Regions from separate parts of the Homo sapiens genome. Here region 2 is linked to region 1. A link means that fine-mapping ties the variant in region 1 to the expression of a gene that starts in the linked region. Tissue or cell type: whole blood. Region 1 holds a variant in brackets; the other region holds the start of a gene. All regions are shown on one strand. Distances are from middle to middle.

Region 1 (8,131 bases):
CTGGCCAACATGGTGAAACCCCGTCTCTACTAAAAACACACACACACAAAAATAGTCAGGTGTGGTGGTGTGCGCTTGTAATCCCAGCTACTCGGGAGGTTGAGGCAGGAGAATTGCTTGAACCCAGAAGGCGGAGGTTGTAGTTAGCTGAGATCGTGCCACTGCGTTCCAGCCTGGGCAACAGAGGGAGACTCGAAAAAGAAAATGCCTAATACTAAAAGGACAATGGGACAATGTCAAGTGTTGAGAATGCAGAACAACTGGAACTCTCAGATATGACTGGTACACCCTTTCAAAATGCCTGGCTCCACAAGAACAAAAAAAAAAGAAAGAAAGAAAGAAAGAAAGAAAACAAAATGTCTAGCTCCAGCCTGGGCAACATAGTGAGACCATGTCTATACTAAAAAATAAAAACAAAAATAAAATTAGCGGGGCGTGGTGACACATGTCTGTGGTTCCCGCTACTTGGGAGGCTGAGGCAGGAGGATTGCCTGAGTCCAGGAGGTGGATGCTGCAGTGAGCCATGTTTGGCCTGCACTCCGGCCTGGGCTACAGAGGGAGATCCTGTCTGCAAAAAAAAAAAAAAAAGAAAAAGAAATGTCTGGCCCTATTTACCAAAGCTGAACATATGCATACCTTATGACCCTGTGATTCCACACCTAGGTATTACCCAACAGTATTTACCCAACATTACCTATGTTCATAAGACACATGTTCAACAGCATTCATAGCAGCATTTTATAATATATGTAATAAGGCCGGGCATGGTGGCTCATGCCTGTAATCTCAGCACTTTGGGAGGCTGAGGTGGGTGGATCACCTGAGCTTAGGAGTTCAAGACCAGCCTGGCCAACATGATGAAATCCCATCTCTACTAAAATACACAAATTATCCGGGCGTGGTGGCAGGCACCTGTGATCCCAGCTACTTGAGAGGCTGAGGCAGGAGAATTGCTTGAACCTGGGAGGTGGGAGGTTGCAGTGAGCCAAGATGGCGCCACTGCACTCCAACCTAGGCAACAGAGCGAGACTCTGTCTCCAAAAAAAAGAAAAAAGAAGTGTAATAAACAAAATTGGAGATAACCCAAATGTTCATCAACAGTAAAATGTGGTCTATTTATATAATAGAATATTAAAGGTGTGAGAATGGATTAACTACAACTACACATAGCAACACAGATGTATCAAACACAATTTTGAGCAAAAGAAGCAAGGCATAAAAAATACATGCTATATTATTCTGTTTATATACAGTTCAAAAACAAATAAAGTTTAACTATGCAGTTTGAAGTCAAGATAGTTACCCTTTTGGGTAGTAAGTAACTGGAAGTGGACAGGCTGTGGAGGGTTCTGGAAATTGTTCTTTTTCTTGGTCTGGGTGCTGGTTGCATGGGTATGTTCACTTTGGGAAAATTCACATTTTGCATATTGGGATACTGAGGCTCAGAGAGAAAAACAATTGAATGGAGAGCTCACAGACAGACAGATGGCAGAGCTGGGATCAGAACCTAAGGGGTTAGGTTTTCGGTGACCCTGAAAAGTAGACAGTATCAGACATTCTTGGATTCTGTGAAATGCAGTTGAACCTCTGGTCTCCCAGTTGCCCTTCCCACCCCCACTTCTGCTTCATGCTTATAACACAAAACCAGTTTTGCAAGTGAGTCGGGCTCTCTCTTGCAGGTCCAAAGTCTGTGACTCTGCACTTTGTGTTTCTTCCCAGGCCTGAACCCAGTGAACAGACCAACTTGGAACATAGGAGAAAGTTTTGTTTTTTTGTTTTTAAGAGTTGAAAGGAAGAAAATTAGGCCAGGCACAGTGGCTCATGCCTATAATCCCGGCACTTTGGGAGGCCAAGGTGGGTGGATCAGTTGAGGTCAGGAGTTCTAGACCAGTCTGGCTACACGGCGAAACCTCGTCTCTACTAAAAATACAAAAAATTACCCGGGCACAGTGGCGCACACCTGTAATCCCAGCTACTCAGGAGGCTGAGGCAGGAGAATTGCTTGAACCTGGAAGGCAGAGGTTGCAGTGACCCCAGATCGCATCACTGCACTCCAGCCTGGGTGACAGAGTAAGACTCTGTCTCACAAAAAAAAAAAAAAAAAAAAAGGGCCAGGCTCGGTGGCTCATGCCTGTAATCCCAGCACTTCGGGAGGCTGAGGCAGGTGGATCACCTGAGGTCAGGAGTTCAAGACCAGCCTGGCCAACATGATGAAATCCTGTCTCTACTAAAATACACAAATTATCTGGGCGTGGTGGCAGGCACCTGTAATCCCAGCTACTCGGGAGGCTGAGGCAGAAGAATCGCTGGAACCCAGGAGGTGGAGGTTGCAGTGAGCTGAGATGGCACCATTGCACTCCAGCCTGGGCAACAAGAGTGAAACTCCGTCTCAAAAATGGAAGAAAGAGAGAAAGAGACAGAGAGAGAGGGAGGGAGAGAGAGAGGGAGGGAGGGAGGGAGGAAGGAAGGGAGGAAGGGAGGGAGGGAAGAAGAAAGGAAAGAAAGAAAGGGAAGGGAAGGGAGGAGGGAGGGAGAAAGGAAGGAAGGAGAGAGAGAGAGAAAGAGAGAGAGAGAAGAGGGAGGGAGGGAGAGAAAGAAAGGAGAGAGAGAAAAGAGGGAGGGAGACAGAGAGAAAGAATGAAAAAAAAAGAAAGAAAGGAGGGAAGGAGGAAGAGAAAGAAAGAAAGAGAGGAAAGAAAGAAAATTAGATACATGTTTGTGTGCTGCTAGAAAACTGTGTCATAGCATAACCAAAACTGTCACCTCAGCAATCCCTGGGGAGTGAGATGGGGTGGGGAAGCCCTTCTCTCCCTGCCCCAAGGCTACTGCCCTTGTTCAGTAAGCAGGCTGAGGCCCCACACCCTTCTTTCCGGTTCCTCACCTGGAGTACTTTCCTTGATCTTAACCTGACAACCTCCTTCTCACCATTCAGATCTTTGTTCCTTCCTTGACCACCTCATCCAAAGAGATACCCTGTCACTGTTCATAAAATGATTGTTTTTACCGCTTCCACTTCTCTCTCTGAAATCACTTTGTTTATTTATCTACTCAATGGTTGTCTGCCCCTCCCATGCCCCATGCAGGCAGGAACCACCTTGTTTCCCACTGAATCCTCAGAGAAGGACAGGGGACACAGAGCCCACAGATGTTAGGTGGTCAATGAATGAGGTTGGGTGTTGGTGGGGGGCTGGCTTTTTATTTTGTACACGTTTGTATTTTGCATTATTATTATTATTTTTTGAGACAGAGTCTTGCTCTGTCACCCAGGCTGGAGTGCAATGCTGTGATGTCAGCTCACTACAACCTCTGCCTCCCAGGTTCAAACAATTCTTGTGCCTCAGCCTCCCGAGTAGCTGGGATTACAGGCACCTGCCACCATGCCCCACTAATTTTTGTATTTTTAGTAGAGATGGGGTTTCACCATGTTGGTCAGGCTGGTCTCAAACTCCTGACCTCAAGTAATCCACTGGTCTCGGCCTCCTAAAGTGCTGCAATTACAGACGTGAGCCACCACACCCAGCCTGTTATTATTTTTTAACAAGATGGGGTCTCACTTTGTTTCCTAGGCTGGTCTCATACCCCTGAGCTCAAGGGATCCTTCCACCTTAGCCTTCCAAAGTGCTAGGATTTCAGGCATGAGCCACTATGCCTAACCCTGAATATGTCTGTATTTTTTTTAATAGGAGAAAAAGCATATACATTTATTTGATCATAGTTTTTTTGTGACATGGGAGCCTTCAGAATGAAGAGCCACAGATACAGAGGAAACTGTCCATTTTTATGCTTAGGTTCAACGAAGTGTACATGGCCGTGTATGTAGGGAAAAGAGAGATCAGACTGTTATTGTGTCCATGTAGAAAAGGGAGACATAAGAAACTCCATTTTGACCTGTACCCTGAACAATTGCTTTGCCCTGAGATGCTGTTAATCTGTAACTTTGCCCCAACCTTGAGCTCACAGAAACATGTGTTGTATGGAATCAAGGTTTAAGGGATCTAGGGCTGTGCAGGATGTGCCTTGTTAACAAAATGTTTACAGGCAGTATGCTTGGTAAAAGTCATCGCCATTCTCCATTCTCGATAAACCAGGGGCACAATACACTGCGGAAAGCCGCAGGGACCTCTGCCCTGGAAAGCCTGGTATTGTCCAAGGTTTCTCCCCATGTGACAGCCTGAGATATGGCCTCGTGGGATGGGAAAGACCTGACCGTCCCCCAGCCCGACACCCG[C/A]GAGGGGTCTGTGCTGAGGAGGATTAGTAAAAGAGGAAGGCCTCTTGAAGTTGAGATAAGAGGAAGGCCTCTGTCTCCTGCCTGCCCCTGAAACTGAACGTCTCGGTATAAAACCCGATTATACATTTGTTCAATTCTGAGACAGGAGAAAAACCGCGCCGTGGCGGGAGGCGAGACATGTTGGCAGCAATGCTGCTTTGTTATTCTTTTCTCCACTGAGATGTTTGGGTGGAGAGAAGCATAAATCTGGCCTGTGTGCACATCCAGGCATAGTACCTTCCCTTGAACTTATTTGTGACTCAGATTCCTTTGCTCACATGTTTTCTTGCTGACCTTCTCCTCACTATCAGCCCGCTCTCCTATCGCATTCTTCTTGCTGAGATAGTGAAAATAGTAATCAATAAATACTGAGGGAACTCAGAGACCAGTGCCAGAGCAGGTCCTCCGTATGCTGAGCGCCGGTCTCCTGGGCCCACTGTTCTTTCTCCATACTTTGTCTCGGTGTCTTATTTCTTTTCTCAGTCTCTCGTCCCACCTGATGAGAAATACCCACAGGTGTGGAGGGGCAGGCCACCCCTTCACATGTAGAAACAGGATTGCACAAAACGCTAATAGACTGAATAGAGAAACCCACCAAGACCCATCTGTGTAGATTCTTCTTGGCCTCTCTGTGCAGTGTTCCTTCCTCCAGGGTATGCGGCAAGACCCTCTCAAAGGGGCCTGGGTGGTGGGGGCTGTCTTATGACCTGTCTTGCCTAAGGTCATAGTGCAAGGTGATGAGACTAAAGAGGAACAGAGCACAGGCACAGAAGTATCTCAAAGCTTCCCCTCCGGTACCTCCCCAGCCTCTTTGGCCCAAACCCCCTGGCTAGCAACATTCCTATAGTTCCTCAGTGTCTCTTTGGTTCGGAAAAAAAACTTTCTTGCCTGGAGGCCTTTGCATCAGGGGGTCCCTTAACCATCACTCAGATCCTTCCCCTCTGCATGGCCAACTCTCATATGTTTGTATTTTTTAGTTTTTTGAGACTAACATGCATTACATGCATACCTTATTTATTTATTATTTTTTTATTTTTTTATTTTTTTGAGATGGAGTTTTGCTCTTGTTACCCAGGCTGGAATACAGTAGCCTGATCTTGGCTCACTGCAACCTCCACCTCCCCGGTTCAAGCGATTCTCCTTCCTCAGCCTCCCAAGTAGCTGGGAATACAGGCATGAACCACCTCGCCTAATTTTGTATTTTTAGTAGAGACGGGGTTTCACCGTGTTGGCCAGGCTAGTCTTGAACTCCTGACCTCAGGTGATCCACCCACCTCAGCCTCCCAAAGTGCTGGCATTACAGGCGTGAGCCACCGCGCCCAGCCAACATACATTACTTTTGCAAACAAAGATAAAACTCTTTTTTTATTCTTCAAAAGAATAAAAAAGCTCCCTGGTGGTCTAGTGGTTAGGATTCCAGGCTCTTACCACAGGGATCTTTTTTTTTTTTTTTTTTTTTGGGGACACAGTCTCGCTCTTTGCCCAGGCAAATATTGTGCAGTGGCAGAATCTTGGCTCACTGTAAGCTCCGCCTCCCGGGTTCATGCCATTCTCCTGCCTCAGCCTCCCGAGTAGCTGGGACTACAGGCACCTGCCACCATGCCCGGCTAATTTTTTGTATTTTTAGCAGAGACAGGGTTTCACCGTGTTAGCCAGGATGGTACCACAGGGTTCTTAAAAACAAAAAGAGGCCAGGTGCGGTGGCTCATGCCTGTAATCCCAGCACTTTGGGAGGCTGAGGTGGGCGGATCACCTGAGGTCAGGAGTTCAAGACTAGCCAGGCCAACACGGCGAAACCCTGTCTCTACTAAAAATACAAAAATTAGTTGGGTGTGGTGGCACACACCTGTAATCCCAGCTACTGGGGAGTCTGAGGCAGGAGAATCGCAAGAAACTGGGAGGCGGGGGTTGCAGTGGGCTATCGCGCCACTGCACTCCAGCCTGAGCGACAGAGGGAGACTCCGTCTCAAAAAAAAAAAAAGAGAAAGAATAAAAAAGCAGGTTACTGCAGCGGACTCTACCCTCACCAAGTTATCTTGGATTTAACAAGTTTCCAACTGAAAGCAATTCCCTCCAATACCAACTGGGGACCCTGAGACCAGAGAGGGGCTGGGCCTTGCCCAGGTTCACACAACACTAAGCAAGCCAGGCTGGGTCCCAACTCCCCTCCTCCCACTCAACCTGGGTACTTCTCGGGGGTTTCCCGATCCAAAGGAGGCCAGGAGCCGGGGTTGGGGATGGGGAGCGGAGACAGCGGTGAGGAGCGGCGGTGTGGCGGGCAGGGGGTGCGCAGACAGGGCGGAGAAGGTGCTGGTAACGGGGGCTGCGGAGCGGAAGGGTGCGGGCTGGGGAACCTCAGAGGGTGCGGGGAGGGAATAAGGGGCGTAGATGGTGCAGGGTAACGGAGGCGCGCAGTGAAGGCGGGTGACAGGGGCGCAGAGAGGTGCACAGTGAGACGAAGGAGGGAGAGGGGACGGCGAGGGCGACGGGAGATGGGGCGGGAGAGGGCGAAGGTGAGGGGGATAAGGGCGGGGACGGGGCGGGGACAGAGGCGGGTCGGGATGGTAGGGAGGGGCGGCCCGCGCGATCCCCGCCCCACCGCCCGGCGCTTGCGCACCTCCGCCCGAGCTCGCGGGCCTTGCGGCTGCGTTTTCAATCTGCTTCCTTGTGAGTCAGGTGGGTCCTGGGCCCAGGAACCGGCCCGGAGCCGTGGACGCCCTACAGCTGAGAAGGGGACCCAAGGGGTCGGCCGCGGCCAAGGCCCCTAGGACCGCCGCCCCAGCTCACGCTGCCGACGGCAGCTATAGACATTCTGCGTCAGGTCCGGGCTCCTGGACTTCGCCTTTCCCGAGCCCTGGAGGTGGGGAGAAAAGGTGAGCAGTTCGTGCCTGCAGCGCAGAGCCCCAAACCCGCGGTTTTAGAAATCGAAAAAGCCCTGCCGGGCGCGGTGGCTCACGCCTTTACCGTAATCCCAGCACTTTGGGAGGCCGGGGGGCGGGGTGGGGCGGGGGAGGATCACGAGTTCGGGAGTTCGAGACCAGCCTGGCTAACATAGTTGAAACCCCGTCTCCACTAAAAATACAAAAATTAGCCAGGTGTGGTGGCGCGCGCCTGTAGTCCCAGCTACTCTGGAGGCTAAGGAAGGAGAATCGCTTGAATCCGGGAGGCGGAAGTTGCAGTGAGCCGAGATCGCACCACTGTACACCTGGGTGACAGAGTGAGACTCTGTCTCAAAAAAAAAAAAAAAGAAAAAAAGCCGGCCGGGTATAGTGGCTCACGCCTGTAATCCTAACACTTTGGGAGGCTGAGGTCGGGAGTTCGAGACCAGCCTGGCCAACATGGAGAAACCCCGTCTCTACTAAAAATACAAAAAAAAAAGGAGCCGGGGATGGTGGCGCATGCCTGTAATCCCAGCTACTTGGGAGGCTGAGGCAGGAGAATCGCTTGAACCTGGGAGGCGGAGGTTGCAGTGAGCCGAGATCGCGCCATTGCACTTCAGCCTGGGCAACAAGAACGAAACTCCGCCTCAAAAAAAAAAAAAAAAAAAAAAAAAAGCCGTGGGTCAGGAGCCAGAGCCCTCTGCTCTAGTCTTAGCTGTGCCAATGTGACTCCCTGTGTGATTTGGGGGTAAATTACTGCCCCTCACTGGGTCTCTGTCTACCCACCTGCAAAATGAGAGGATCTTTGGATGAGTCTCCTTAATTCATTTCCTGGACAAACTTCCTCCAAGGCTCCCCCAGATTTACCAGTGACGCCCTTCCCTAAGTATCAACTTAGCCGTACTTTGAACTCTGGCCCCTCAGGTTTCAAGGGGACGGCCTTGTCTGGGATCAGCTCTGTCTGGGGAAAGAAGCTGCACCAGCC
Region 2 (8,000 bases), 21 kb before region 1:
GGCTCACCCTGCTACCTATTTTAACCTGCCACTCTCTAACAAGGCTATGTGCTCTAGTCAACGGTGAATCCCCAAAAGAACTCTTCCATATGGCTTTAGTTAATTCTGCCCCATTCATCACCAAACTTGGACTACCTAAGAAAAACATGTTTCCTGAAAATAGGGACTATTACTTTGAAACTACAGAATTTGGCCGGGCGCGGTGGCTCACACCTGTAATCCCAGCACTTTGGGAGGCCAAGGCAGGCTCATCACGAGGTCAGGAGTTCGAGACCAGCCTGGCCAATATGGGGAACCCCTTCTGTACTAAAAATACAAAAATTAGCCGGGCATGGTAGCCTGTAGTCCCAGCTACTTGGGAGGCTGAGGCAGGAGAATCGCTTGAACCCAGGAGGCAGAGGTTGCAGTGAGCTGAGACTGCGCCACTGCACCCCAGCCTGTGTGACAGAGCAAGACTCTGTCTCAAAAAAAAAAAAACTACAGAATTTAACAACTGGTAAAAATTTTTGACATCATCCACCAGTATTCCCCCCACCACACTTCTATCATTACTGCAGTGGTATCTGGACTTTTGAAGTTCCTTACTAGGCTAAGGTAATGTTTCACTTTTTTACCATGGCCCTTCATGCCCAGAGATTCTGATTTGGATTCGGGAGGTGGGAGGGTTCTCGTCCCAACCCATTCAAAGCTACTTTTGCAGCCTAACCTCCTATTTTTACTGATAGGAAATTGAGGTTCTTCAGAGAGAAGTGACTTGCTCAAGATCTTACCAAGAATTTATGAAAACTGGGATTCTGTTCCAATGACCTTTGGCCTTGCCCCGTTTTTTTTTAATAAGCTTTTTATATTTCAACAGTTTCTCTACTTATGTCCTTTTTCGATTACAGGGGCCAACCCAGAATACCACATTGCATCTAGTGAACTCACTTTTTAAGACTGAGATGAAATTCAAAGAACATAGAATTAACCATTTTTAAATGAGCAGTTCAGTGGCATTTAGAACAGTCACAATGTTGTGCAACCACTACCTCTATCTAGTTTCAAAACATTTTCCTCAGGCCCTGGCAATCAGCAGTCTGCTTTCTTTCTTGTTCCTTTTTTATGCTTTTCACAGCATTTAGCACAATGCCATATACCTACCTAGAAGACACTCAGAATAGTTTAGTTTTAACTTTTTATTGAAACGAAATATACATACTAAAAGACACAAATAAGTGTGGAGCTTAATGAATTTTCACGAATTAAACACAGCCATGTAACTCACACCCAGACCAATAAACATTAACTGCATCCAAAGAAACCTCTTTAGTCTCCCCCTGCCGCCTTTTTTTTTTTTTTTTTTTTTTTTTTTTCTGGAGACAGGGTCTTGCTCTGTCATCCAGGCTGGAGTGCAGTGGTACGATCACAGCTTACCGCAGCCTTGACCTCCCAGGCTCAAGCAATCCTCCCATGTCAGCCTCCCAAGTAGCTGGGACTACAGGTGTCCACCACCATGCCCAGCTACTTTTTGTAATTTTTGTAGAGACTGTTTCGCCATGTTGCCAAGGTTGGTCTTGAACTCCTGGGCTCAAGCGATCCACCAGCCTTGGCCTCCCAAAGTGCTAGGATTACAGGTGTGAGCCACCACACCCAGCCTAATCTCCCTTTCAATCCTCCCCATCTCCCCAGTGGAAATCACTATTCTGAGTCCTAACAACACAGCTTAATTTTGCTTGATTGTGTAGTTAATATAAATGAAATCATATTATATACTATTTTGTGTCTCACTTCTTTTACTCAACAATATGTTTAAGATTTATTCATATTATTGCATTCACAATACTGAAAGATTAAGGTAAAATGTTTCAAAAGGTGGAGGCTGGGGGGAGAGTGGGAACAGGTCTTTCAGTCAAGAAGAAGAAAAGACATGGGGGAAATAAGCTACACCAAACAGCAACATTTTAAAATTTCCCGTTCTATTTGGGTTCTTAGATGGTTCTAATTATTTTTAGTTACCAATAACCTCAGGGAAGGAATGAGTGTCAGGAAAGAAATGTCGGGCAGGGAATCTAGGAAAAAACAAATAATAATTGCCCCTATGGAGTGTGGTTATTAGCAGGCATTGCAGAGAGAGCCCAGTGTAACATGGGGCAAATTATTTAATCTAGCTGGCAATTGTTTTCCCAATCCGTAAAGTGAGAATAGTAACATCGTTGCTGTCAAGATTAGATAAATGAATGTAAAATGCATGGTACTGTCCCTGACTCTTTAATGCACAGCAAACATTATTTGCTTTCTATCCCCTTCCTTGTTGAATACAGATCAGAACTCCAGTAGCTGGAAACTAAGCAGTGTCATATTTCCCTAGCCTTACGCCGCTAGGCCCCTTAAATTTAAAATATAAAGTATACAACAGGTTTGGGGTACAGATTTTGAGAAATTTAAAAAAAAATTTTTTTTTGAGACAGAGTCTCCCTCTGTCACCCAGGCTGGAATGCAGTGGCATGATCTCAGCCCATTACAACCTCCGCCTCCCGGGTTCAAGCGATTCTCCTGCCTCAGCCTCCCGAGTAGCTGGGATTACAGGAGCCCGCCACCACGCCCGGCTAATTTTTTGTATTTTTAGTAGAGACAGGGTTTCACCATGTTGGTCAGGCTGGTCTTGAACTCCTGACCTCAAGAGATCCGCCCGCCTTGGCCTCCCAAAGTGCTGGGATTACAGGCGTGAGCCACCGAACCGGGCTGAGAAATAAAATCTGAGAATAAGTGTAATGTAACCCACTAGTGTCCTCTACATTTGAAAGTCAACTTTTCAATAATCCCTGAAGAACCACCTGAAAGGCATTGCTTCGCTAGGGCGATGATGCCCGATCGCCATTTTACTCATCCAATCCTACTGGTTTACCCAGGCCCCATAAGCCTCACCAGATCCCTCTTGCCTCTGCACATCTCCAATCTCCATAAAGACCTTTGATCGGATCTATCATTGTACCTATCATAGGTCTGATGCCCCTATCAAGACTTGGAGTTTTCCTAAACGCCCATGTCTTTCACATCACATCTCTCAACTCATAGCATTGCCGTACCCTGAGAAATAAATGAAGCTGGTACAAATTTTCTCTGAAAACTTGGAAGCCTGGCGCTGAACTCAACAACTTTAGCTTAGTCCGCAAAAATGGACTTAGCTAATACTGTGTTAGGCATAATGGTGCTGTTTTAACGGCTTTGACATCCAATTATTCTTTCACCAAGCCATTAACCAGAGCCAAGTTTGCCCTAGGCTGGGCAAAGGAATGCTGTGAAGTGAAACCTGGGCTGTAACCGCCTCCGAGGCCGGCTCACACCCAGGGACCCTCCCAAGCGGTTCCTGCGCCCCCTCGTGGCCTCCCTCCTGCAGTTCGCTGCACAAGCGCAGGGCCCGGAGCGGGGACGGGCGGGCCCTCCAGGCCCTCGACACACCCAATTGGCCAGGCCTCGTTGCGTGTGGGCGGGGCCGCGGCTGGAGCGGAGGAGCCCCCCAGAAGACCGCCTTCAGGGGGCGTGGCCTGGACTGTGGAGGGGGCGGACCGTGGGGAAGCTGCTTCCGGGTGAGCCCCCCCCGCTCTTACGCGGTCTGTGGGAGACCGGAGCGGGAGACAGCGGTGACAGGAGCAGCGGCCGGGAGCCCTTAGGGAGGCAGGTGAGCGGGGGCTGGATGCGGGGAGATAGCGGGCCTGGAGGGCGGCTCCAGGGCGAGGCGGGGACTGTGGCACCAAGAGTCCTGCGTCCCCAGATTGTGCTGTGCGCCTGAAGCCCTGGCGGTGCAGCCGTGCACGGAGTCCCGTGGAGCGTTTGTTTGGGCTGGATTATCCCGCTGCAGCCGAGGTTGGGGGCCCGGGTTCGGGGCTCCGCACCTCTTCTCTGGGGTTCACCCTCTCGGATACCGCCTGGGCAGACTCCATCGATGCAGAACCCGAGGTGCGGGTGGTGGTTGGTGGGGGGGTAGGGAGGTGAAAACAATAACAGCCGTTTTGTACTAAGCGTTGCGTGCATTGACCATTCATTTATTTTATTTATTTATTTATTTTTGAGACGGAGTTTCGCTCTTGTTGCCCAGGCTGGAGTGCAATGGCGCGATCTCAGCTCACTGCAACCTCCGCCTCCCGGGTTCAAGCGATTCTCCTGCCTCAGCCTGCCAACTAGCTGGGATTACAGGCGTGTGCCACCACGCCTGCTAATTTTTGTATTTTTAGTAGAGATGGGGTTTCTCCCTGTTGGTCAGGCTAGTCTCGAACTCCCGAGCTCAGGTGATTCGCCCACCTCGGCCTCCCAAAGTGCTGGGATTACAGGCGTGAGCCACCACGCCCGGCCTGACCCATTCATTTCTTACAACAACCCATTGAGGTCGGTTCTAGTCCCCATTTACTAAACGAAGAAACTGAGGTCACACAACTAGAAAGCTACAGAACTAGGATTTGTACCCACATCTATCAGACTCCAGAGCCCACATACTTAACCATCCTGCTACCAACAGCAGCCAGGCCCAGAGTCTGGCTCACCCAAAGCTCTCCACAAGCCCAACCTGCTGGGAAACAGATTTGATATCTATCCTTAAAGTATGGAGGTGTCATGGTGGGCACTGAGGACTGGGCTGCTGGAGACCTTCCCCCAGATCTGCCGCTGACCCACTGCGTGATCCTGGGCCTGTGTCTACCCCTCTCTGAGCCCAGTTTCACCCTTGTTTCAGTGATACAATCAGCAAACTTTAAGAAGACTCTTAGCCAAGATATTCTAGGATTCTGGGAATGGCAGCTTCTCCTACGTCTAAATGGCTAACCCCAGAGGCGATCAGGCTCTTCAAAGCCCCAGGGCAAGGCTGGGGTCTCATTCTTCTCTTTAATCCCTGTGTCTAGCACTTCAGCAGGCCCATAGTAGATATTCAAGAAATGTGGGTTGGCTGAATAAACACTTCATCTCTTTTCAGAACTGCATGACAGCTGCTCTCCTGGGCCTTTGTGGGGCTTTGGATTTCTCAGTTCTGGCCACCTTCTATCTAGCTGGCTCTCCTGACTGCCTCCTCCCTGGCCAGTGGCAGAGCCTGCCAGGGCTGGCAGCAGGTCCTAAGCCTCTGTGCGAAGACCCACAGCCTCTGGAATCCTCAGCATAGTACAACTTGCAGGGGTGGGGGGTGGCACATGAAGCTCATAGCCCCTCCTGGTAGCAGTGCTCAGGGCCCAACTTCAGTTACTCCCAGTTTGGGGATGTTGCCTTCCATGGGAGGAGATACTTTCATATTAAATCTGAAACACTTCTTATCCTTCACTGTCCCCTCTTCCATGAAACCACCCTTGACTCAGAGACACAGTCCCTCTGACAGCACCTGGTCCACCCCTCTACTCTGGCAGCCCGGTGGTGATTATTTTGTTTTTCCTCCACCACATAACCTGCTGGAAGGCAGGGACTCCACTTCAGAAATCTTGGAAAACCCTGTGGCCCACAAGGGTTTGAGCTCATATTCCCATCTGGTGAGGTGCAGAAGGCACAGAGCTGTGCCAGGACATCTCGTTCCAACCCAGCCCCACTCCTAATAGTAATAAAAGTAGCTACATGTTTACTGTGCAGCTACTTGGTGCCAGACACCTACCTTATCCCTATCAATAATCTCCACAGCCTTGCAAGTTAGAGATATCATGCCTATTTTGTAGATTATGAAATGAACACTGAAAGGTCAATTACTTTGCCCAAAATTACACAGCAGAGCATAGACCAAACCTGGGACTGTCTGACCCTGAAACATGGATCTTTCTGCACCGCCCTATACTCTGCGTCCCAGCAAAGCTAACCTGTCTGATGTGGTTGGGCAGAGGTGCTGGACCTCCTGGCGGCTCGCTCCTGTCTTCAGTGTGGTAATGTCACAGGCATTTAAATTGTGGTTTGCAAGCTCGCTTGATTTGGGAGAAGTGCCCTCCCAGTCTGTGAAATTCTCCCAAACTCTAAGGGCCTTTTTGCAAAGCAAAACCCACCCTGCATTTGGCTCTGCCAATATGTGATTCAGGGGGTGTTTTCCCACTCACAGAATGGAGTGGGAAACTCCACTTATTAAGTACCTCTTACAATGGAATGACTCTATGGTGTAGGTATCAGGGCACTGAAATAGAAGCCAGGAGCTGCAGGGTCAGTTTATAGCTCTGTATGTCACTCACTGTGATCTCCAAAAGTCCCGTTGCCTCTTTATACCCCATTTTCCACATTAAAGTGTAAGGGATTAAACAGGATTGGCAATTTTCAAGCTTTTAATATTTTCAGCACTGACAGCCGTTTCTCAAATCAAATCTGTCTCTGAATCTTAAAATTCAAAAACAGATCAAAGTGGACTGCTGTAGTGAGACTGTTCCCTTTACTCTAACCCTGCCCCGGTCTCAGGCTCCTAGGCAGTCCTGCCCCAGGGTTTCTGCTAAGCAGGAGCCAGTTGTTCCCTCAGCCTCCTAAAAGCGATGGGGAGTTGAGGCCAGTGGAATGCAGCTTTGGATTCAGAAGCCAGAAAACAACAGAGATTGTTTGTGGGAAGTGAGTCAGAGAGATTAGACCTCTCTTCAACATCTGACTAGACTCTAGAATGGCATTAAGCAAGTCACTGAACCGCTCAGAGCCTCTGTTTCCTTATCACTAAAAGTTAGGACAATTCTTGCAATGAAATGAGATACTACTACCAAGTACTTCAGTGCTGTGCCCAGCACAGAACGAATACACTCAGTATGTTTTTCTTTTGTTTCTTCTGTCTCTCCAGCACCCAAAGCAGAAACAGTATGGGCAGAGAGACGCCTACTGAATCAGGTGTTTATCAGTATTATGAAATACAGTATATAAAACCCAGCATTTGGAGTCCAGAACAAATTCAAATTCTGGCTCAGTCACTAAGTAGCTATGTGGTCTTGGGCAACTGGCTTACATTTTGGTAATTCTCTCAATATGCAAAAATATTCTCTCGGCCAGGTGCGGTGGCTCACGCCTGTAATCCCAGCACTTTGGGAGGCAGAGGCGGGCGGATCACTTGAAGTCAGGAGTTTGAGACCAGCCTGGCCAACATGGCGAAACCCTGTCTCTACTAAAAATACAAAAATTAGCCAAGCATGGTCATGCATGCCTGTAGTCCCATCTATTTGGGAGGCTGAGGCAGGAGAATCACTTGAACCCAGGAGGTGGAGGTTGCAGTGAGCCGAGATCGAACCACTGCACTCCAGCTTGGGTGACAGAGCCAGACTCTGTCTCAAAAAAAAAAAAAAAAAAAAAAGAAAAGGAAAAAAAACTCCTGGCAGACATGAGAGCAAAATCGAGTACGAAATGGGCAGCTGGGACCTCATATCTACTGAATAATTGTCTGTTTGGAGGTTGAGACATGACTGGGGAGGCCTGGCCTGCCCCTGTGTTAGGTGATGGGGCTGGCCCACCCAGGGGTGTGGCAGCAGGGCTGGCCCCTGTGTGACTTGTGATAACCCCACCCTACCAAGGAGGAAGACTGGATAAAATGGGCCCCTGAGATGGCTGAAGGCAGCTAAAGGGGCCTAAGAGACTATGGGGAGAAGGGCAGCCAGTTCCTAGGCAGCCCTGCCCCACTGTTTCTGATAAGCAGGAGGCAGTTGTTCCCTCAGCCTCCTGAAAGCAATGAGGAGTTGAGGCCACGGGAATGCAGCTTTGGATTCCAGAAGCCAAGGACCTGTTACAAAGGTGGTTTTCTGGGAAGCAAATTAGAGGGATTAGACCTGGCTTCGACATCTGACTTGACTCCAACCTACCAAAGGATCTCCCAGTTCACCTGGGAGTTAACACACCAGGGTTCTAGTCCTTTTGCTCGCTGTGTGGCTTTGGGTAAGTCCTTGCCCCTCTCTGGACCTTGAGGTCCCATTCATACAAAAAGCAGTTGGACTCAGGCCTGCCAGCCCCCATTTTTGTGGCTCTTCCCCGCCCCTCCCCATCCTTTGGCTATGGGATAGTCTCCCAGGCACCTCCAAAAGGAAGTGTCTAAAACAGAGCTCTCCACCTCC

Evidence for each region. PIP is the estimated chance that this variant, and not a neighbour inherited with it, causes the effect.
Region 2: it holds the start of ALAD, and the variant in region 1 is fine-mapped to the expression of ALAD in whole blood (INTERVAL, PIP 0.96).

What each region holds. Positions count from the first base shown.
Region 1 is chr9:113,375,738-113,383,868 of GRCh38, reverse strand. HDHD3 (haloacid dehalogenase like hydrolase domain containing 3) reads left to right here and starts at 6,883. Exons shown (of 3, transcript NM_001304509.2): 1 at 6,883-7,140. RefSeq lists an enhancer at 2,717-2,776 and a silencer at 6,512-7,031. The variant C/A (reference allele first, on the strand shown) is at 4,229.
Region 2 is chr9:113,396,870-113,404,869 of GRCh38, reverse strand. It overlaps ALAD (aminolevulinate dehydratase), which reads left to right and starts at 3,586. Exons shown (of 12, transcript NM_000031.6): 1 at 3,586-3,658. RefSeq lists silencers at 3,275-3,634, 3,785-3,834 and an enhancer at 3,850-4,430.